Homo sapiens: one gene and its partner. The protein of the gene in region 1 interacts with the protein of each later gene in a pairwise test. Each region holds a gene or a part of one and is shown on either strand. Other genes may lie near its edges.

The links.
Region 2: the proteins of DOK4 (region 1) and RBP7 interact in a two-hybrid assay, tested with the Homo sapiens proteins (one large-scale study listed by BioGRID and IntAct).

What each region holds. Positions count from the first base shown.
Region 1 is NC_000016.10:57,476,346-57,479,993, forward strand, and holds part of DOK4 (docking protein 4), read right to left. Parts: intron 3,413-3,648; exon of another isoform or gene 3,344-3,412; 5' UTR 3,163-3,343; coding exon 3,097-3,162; intron 1-3,096. UniProt on the Homo sapiens protein: DOK proteins are enzymatically inert adaptor or scaffolding proteins. They provide a docking platform for the assembly of multimolecular signaling complexes.
Region 2 is NC_000001.11:10,000,125-10,003,772, reverse strand, and holds part of RBP7 (retinoid-binding protein 7), read right to left. Parts: intron 1-3,648. UniProt on the Homo sapiens protein: Intracellular transport of retinol.

The DNA.
Region 1 (3,648 bases):
TTTTATAGATGGGGAAAGGGAGGCATCAAAACACTAAGGAATGGTGATGCTGGTATTTGCAGCAGGCTGTCTAGATCCAGGGCAGACCCTCACAGCCCACTGCAGGATCTGGCCAGGGCTCAGGCAGTGCCAGCCACAACAGAGGGGTCTCCTGGGGATAGGGATTAGACCCTTCCCCCTGCCCACCTGTACATCCCCGTGCCCCTAGTTCTCTGAGTCAGGTGAGGGTCTTTACAAAGGTAACCCCCACTCTTGTCTCCTGGGGCTTTCACTCACCCTCTCTTTTCATTCTCTTACCAACCCTGAAATGTAAGGGGCCCTGCTCCAGCTGGGAACCCAAAGCTGTTTGAGGTAAAGGGGTGGAGCTAGGAATCTGAGGCTCCTCCCACAGCATGGTGCCTTCCCTCCTGGCCCTGGCCACTGCTGATGCCCCTGTACCTTAAACTACCTACATTCTCTGTAGCTTCAGGGACTCCCCCAAGGGGGTGGGGAGCAGAGGGGAGTGACCACTCTAGGATTGAAGGGACAGACTGGCCTATCATTCATGGGTGGTGGAGAGGGAGTTGGCCCCAGCCACCAGCCAGAGCTGCCCTTGCATGACCCCTCCCTCCTGCCTAGACTTTTTTCTGCCCAAAGTCTGTGGCTGGGGTTTACCTACTCCTTCCAGCGGGCATTCCAAAAGCCCGACAGAGCCTGTTCCCCAGGCATCTCTGGTGTTCCTCTTACTGGAAACAGTAGGGAGACTGAGTGGTGGCCGAGAGCACAGCAGAGGAGGCCAGGGGGCCTCTAGGCCCCACCCCTCCTCGGCCCTACTGTGCCATGCGTACACTAGGTCCTTGGCAGGCAGGGTCCCAGGGTGCAGTGGCCCTAGGCAGCCCCCATTTCAAGATACCACTCAGAGCCAGGCCATTTCTGGCTCCTATCTGGGACCCTAGGAGGCATGTCTGCTCCTGCACCCCTGACCCTGGCTTGGCCCCTGTCCTACCCACCTAAACCACAGCAGCCCTCAGCTCTCAGCTGCAGCGCTCCCTTAAGACAGACACTGAATTTTATCCACAGAATCCTCACTCATATCCTGGTAGCCTCATTAACAGCCATGCTAAACAAGTGAATGACCATATGAAGGAACCGTGAATGAATGGATGGATGAATGGATGGATGCTGCCGACCCAGATACACCCTGCCAGGGTGGGCTCCATGCAGCCCGCAGCATCAGGGGCAGAAGGCCTGGGGGCCTGAGCATGCCGGTTGCCTGGTTACAGGATACACATTCACAGCCCCAGGGAGCCACGCGCTCAAGAGCCCTCCTTCCCACTTCGCACAGGGCTTTGATCAGTGCTTCAGAAACACTCTGCCACAGCTCTGCCGCGGGAGAAAGGCCCTGGCAGGTAGGAGAGCCGGCTCCTGATCTCTTTCAGCCCCTCCCCCCTCACCTCTGTGGGCTGAGATGAGAATGGCTGCTGGGGAGGGACCACAGCCTCTCACACCAGGGGAAGTGAGGCTCCTGGCTTCAGAGGGAAGAGAATTCCCTGCATGGATAGGGCCTGGCTATGCCCCACCTCCCCATCCAGGCTGTGCCCACCTGTCAGCCACTCAGTCTCCCTCTGGAACAGGTTTGATACTGAGCCCAAGTGGCTGCCCTTGTGGCTGGTGCCTTCCTGGCACACTCTGCCCTGGGCAAGGCCTCAGCCCAGCTGGCCCCTGGGGACCTGCTAAGTCTGGGGCCATAGGAATGAGAAGTGATGTTAGAAGCGAAGCCTCTGCTTCCTTGGCCTCCCTACCTCAGCCTCAGCTTCTCTCTTTGTTCTGTGCTCCAAGTCAGTGGGCTGATCCCCCTTTCAGAGGAAGAGCAAAGTAGCCGATGGCTGCCAGGGCCCAGTCTCAACTAGGTTGAGCCCCAGGGCAGGGAGGCACAGGAGGGGAAGTGGGGCCAGAACCACCTTCTCCAAGACCAGCCCTGCTCTGTCTGGTACCCAGGTAGGGAAGCTGGGTGGCAGATCCCTCTCCCACTCCGCATGCCCCCCAACCCCACTCAGGCTGAGCCAGGGATCCTTGAGCAGCCTGAGCCGACCCGCCCCCTTCAAGGCAATGGGAGAGAGAAGGGAGAAGGGGACAGGAGTCCTGGGTCAAACACAAGACTTGGGTGACCTCAGTCACCAGGGCTGTCCTTCCTACAGGGGAAGGGGCAACTGCCAGACCTGTCTTTGGCAGGGGGGCCTGGCAGAGGAATAGAGGCAGCTCTCAGACAGCCTCGCCGAGATCATGAAGTTGATCCCCTCTGCTCCTGTCTTCTAGGGGGTCTTCACCAGTTGGGGGTCTACAGAGGGTAGGACAGGATGCATGCCCAGTAAGACCTCTTCTCTGTAGCCCCTCCAAGCCCCCAGTTCAGGGCCAAGCACCAAGCAAGCACAGAGTCACCCACCAACAACTTGGAGGGAAGCAGCCTGTCCCAGAGCACTGGACCATTCTGCCCAAAGTTCTCATTTGGAAACCACATAAATATCAGCTTCAGTGCCTCACACCACCCCGTCTCGCCCAGCCAACCACTCCCCTTTTCAAACACTTCTTTAACATTAAACTCGACAACCAAAAATTTACTAAATATCTGCACACGGAAAGCAGTCAGAAGCAAGGGGAGAGGATGACCTAAAAGAAAAGAGGCCAGGAGAGGTGAGGGGAGGCCGGGGGTGGGGGGCAAACGGAAGGGAGAGGAGGCCAGGGGAAGTGAGACGCTGCTTCTCAGCTCAGACACAGCCCGGCCTTGCCAGCCGCCCCTGCTGCTGCTGTGGTGACAACTTCAACAATAGCAGGGGAGCCGCCTGCCCATCGGTGGCCACCATTGCTGCCACTACCACCACCACTGGCCCAGCTGTTGGGATGCCAGCCAGCCCTCTGGGGCGGGGGCTGCAGCAGGCAGAACCCAGCCCAGGCACATGCCAGGCAGCACGCTGGCGAGGAGCCCCGAGACCACAGATGCACGATGCCCGGCAGCCGGAGGGCAGCCGCGTGCCCCACGCGCCATGCCTCCAAGCCTGGGACCGAGTCCTCGGGCCCCCATCCCTTGGCAGGGCCCCTCCGCAGCTCAGGGTCACTCACCCCGAGCTTCCTGCTCTTCATCTTCACGTAGCCTTGCTTGACGATGTCACTGAAATTGGTCGCCATGGTTTTCCCACCTTTTAGGGGCGCGGGGCCTGGCAGAGGCGAGGGGAAGGATGCCCAGGTGCCTGGGTCTCCGGCTCCTCCAATCACCTGTTCCAGACACTCTGTCGGGGCTGCCGCGAGGGGCTGCTCCTCACCTCACCCGCCTCAGCATTGTTCTAGCAGCTCCTTCGCCCCGCGCCTGCTGGAAATAAAAATGACAGGGAGATTAGAGACAGTGACATCTTTCTCTTCCTCTCGCTGTCTCGCTCTCTTTTTTCCTTCCTCTTCCCACACTCCTCCTCTCTCCCTCTTCCCTCCCTCCTTCCTCCCGCCCTTCTTCCTTCCCTTCCCTCCCCACCCCAGGACGACAGAACCATTCAGGAAAACCGAGGTGGAGGCGGCAGTGAGGAAAATGGTCCAGCCCAGTCCCCTCCCTCACGGCTGGGGCTGGCAGTTAACCCCTTCCTGGGAGGACTGGCTCTGGCTCCTACTGTGGAGGTGGGGACC
Region 2 (3,648 bases), on another chromosome or scaffold:
AAAAATAAATAAATAAAATAAAATATGTGAGGCAATTTGTTGTTAGCAAATTTACAATTTGCACTACTCATGTAGGGCAGGTGAGCCCCAGAGCGGGGATTAGCCTGCAGAGGTTCTTGGCTTTGCCCAGGAAAGAATTCAAGGGCAAGCCAGAGGGAGAAGAAAACAGCTTTATTGAAGAAGCAGTGTCACAGCTCTGTGACTGCTCCCGCAGAAAAGAGCTACCCCATAGGCAGAAAGTAGCAGCTCAGGGCAGTTTTGTAGTCATATTTATACCCACTTCTAGTTACATGCAGAGTAAGGGGTGGTTTTTTTGTTTTTGTTTGTTTGTTTGTTTGTTTATTCAGACAGAGTTTTGCTCTTGTCACCCAGGCTGGAGTGCAATGGCAGCACGATCTTGGCTCACTGCAACCTCTGCCTCCGGATTCAAATGATTCTCCTGCCTCAGTCTCCTGAGTAGCTGAGACTACAGGTGCCCACCACCACGCCCAGCTAATTTTTGTATTTTTGGTAGAGATGGGTTTCACCATGTTGGCCAGGCTGGTCTCGAACTCCTGACCTCAGGTGATCCACCCACCTCAGCCTCCCAAAGTGCTGGGATTACAGGCGTGAGCCACCATGCCCGGCTAACGGGTGGTTTATGCAGACATTTCTAGGGAAGGGGTAGTAACTTTTGGGTCCTCTGGTCATTGCCATGGAAAGGGGTGCTAACTCCAGGTGTTGCCATGGCAATGGTAAACTGATATGGCACACTGTTTTATGTGTTTTATGAAAAGCTGCTTCCATCCTATCCCTGTTTTAGTTAGTCCTCAGTTTGGTCCGCTGTCCCAAGCCCCGCTTCTGGCTTCTGGAGTTGAGCCCTGCCTCCTACCTCACTACCATGTTGCAACATTGTCACTTCACAGATTTGCAGTTACAAGGCTGGCCTCTTTAAATACCAAAATTTACTTTGAATTAGCATAAGTTCTGGGCCAGGTCCAGTGGCTCAGGCCTGTAATTCCAGCACTTTGGGAAGCCGAGGCAGGCAGATCACTTGAGGCCAGGAGTTCAAGACCAGCCTGGCCAACATGGTGAAACCGCATCTCTACCAAAAAATAAAATAAAAATTAGCTGGGCATGGTGGTGTGCACCTGCAGTCCTGGCTGCTGGGGAGGCTGAGGTGGGAGGATCGCTTGAGCCTAGAAGGAGGAGGTTGCAATGAGCCAAGATGGTGCCACTACACTCCAGCCTGGGCAACAGAGTGAGATCCTATCTCAAAAAATAAAAATAAAATAAAATGAATAAATTAGCATAAGTTCTGGTCACTTTCTGCCAGGTCCACACTTACTAGAACCTCAACAGTCCAACAGTCCAAAAGGCCATATTCCTCATAAGGCTGTTACCCAGGTCAAGCCATGCTTTTTCATCTACTAGATTATGTTAAATAGAAAATAAGACATTCGAGTAGGAGGGAACAGCCTGATGCACGTGCTATTACAAATGTGTGAGCATATACACCTGAAGGTAGGATCTCAAAGGAGTCCACACAAACGTACATTTATCTAAGCTTCAGATGTTTATATTAACCTTCAATCTCAAAGCCACTTCTAATCTCAAGGCAATGTGGGTTGAAGGCAAGAAGGGATCCCTTTAAATCCCAGTGTAGGGCCAGATGTGGTGGCTCATGCCTGTAATCCCAGCACTTTAGGAGGCCGAGGCAGGCAGGTCACCTGAGCTCAGGAGTTCGAGACCAGCCTGGCCAACGTGGTGAAACCCTGTCTGTACTAAAAATATAAAATTAACGGGGTGTGGGGGCGTGTGCCTGTAATCCCAGCTACTTGGGAGGCTGAGGCAGGAGAATTGCTTGAACCCGGGAGACGGAGTTGCAGTGAGCCAAGATCCGTGCCACTGCACTCCAGACTGGGCAACAAAGGGAGACTCTGTCTCAAAAATAAATAAATAAATAAATAAATAAATAAATAAACTAATTAAATTAAATAAATATATCCCAGTGTACACAGTAATCTGGGACAAGTTAGTAACACCACCACCTTCTTGGGTTCATAACAGGACTAAAGGCGAGGACTTGCACAAGTTAGTCAATATCTGTGGGCATTAACATGGGGCTTCTCCATTTCTGAAGCACGCACCTTCAGTGTCCTTGGCTGCTGTGGGGGTACACCAGGAACTCCCAAATCCCAGGTTAGCTCCAAATATTAAAACCCAAGCAAGGCAGAGGCAGGAGGATTGCATGTGGCCAGGAGTTTGAGACCAGCCTGGACAACACAGCAAGACACCGTCTCTACAAAAAAATTGAAAAATTGGCCAAGTGTGGTGGTATGCACCTGTTGTCCCAGCTACTTGGAAGGCTGAGGTGGGAGGATCGCCTGAGCCCAGGAAGTGAAGGCTGCAGTGAGCCATGATCGCACCACTGCACTACAGCCTGAGCGACAGAGCAAGACCCTATCTCAAAAAACCCAAGTAAACTTGCTTCTTTGTGCAAAGACAAGCTGCCTTTCTTCTCACTGCGGTTTGGCAAATGCTGGGAGAGAGTGATGCCAGAGCCCGGGTGGGAGCTGCAGGATCAGTTCCTGAACACTAGTTTTTAGACAAAAGGGAGTGATTTTCTGCCCTCAAATGAGATGCCAGCTGGAGCACATCATGAGATGTGTGCTGTGTATTTGCTGGTGACTTATTTGACCCTTAGCATCACTGCCAACAGGCATTTACCTCACTTCTACTACTAAAAAAGAGGCAATCAGCCAGGCACGGTAGCTCACGCCTGTAATCCCAGCACTTTGGGAGGCCAAGGCGGGTGGATCACGAGGTCAGGAGTTCAAGACCAGCCTGGCCAAGATGGTAAAACTCCGTCTCTATTAAAAATACAAAAATTAGCCAGGAGAGGTGGTGGGCACCTGTAATACCAGCTACTCAGGAGGCTGAAGCAGGAGAATTGCTTGAACTCAGGAGGCAGAGGTTGCAGTGAGCCGAGATCGCACCACTGCACTCTAGCCTGGGCAACAGAGAGAGACTCCATCTCAACAACAACAACAAAAAAAGAGGCGATCATTTATTATTTTCCTAGACCCTACAGTTTAAAGATCTAAGTACTATATCTGTGATTTTTTATGGAATGTATTTTCCTTACATGTACATGAACAAGCATATAAATTTAAAGTTAATTATATATTCAAGTAAATCAGTAAAATTCAAGATTGCTAGCTGAATTTTTTTTTTTGTCTTATTGACTTATTTTTTTTGAGACCAAGTCTCATGCTGTTGCCCAGGCTAGAGTGCAGTGTCGTGATCTGGGCTCACTGCAACCTCCACCTCTCAGGTTCAAGCGATTCTCGTGCCTCAGCCTCCCAATTAGCTGGGACTACAGGCATGAGCCACCATGCCTAGCTAATTTTTGTACTTTTAGTAGAGATGGGGTATTTCACCATGTTGGCCAGGCTGGTCTCAAACTCCTGACTTCAGGTGATCCACCCACCTCGGCCTCCCAAAGTGCTGGGATTATAGGCGTGAGCCACCTGCCCAGTCTGCTAGCTTAATTATTTTTTTTCAAGATGGAGTCTTGCTTTGTCTCCCTGGCTAGAGTGCAATGGCGCAATCTCGGCTCACTGCAACCTCCACCTTCTGGGTTCAAGCAATTCTCCTGCTTCAGCC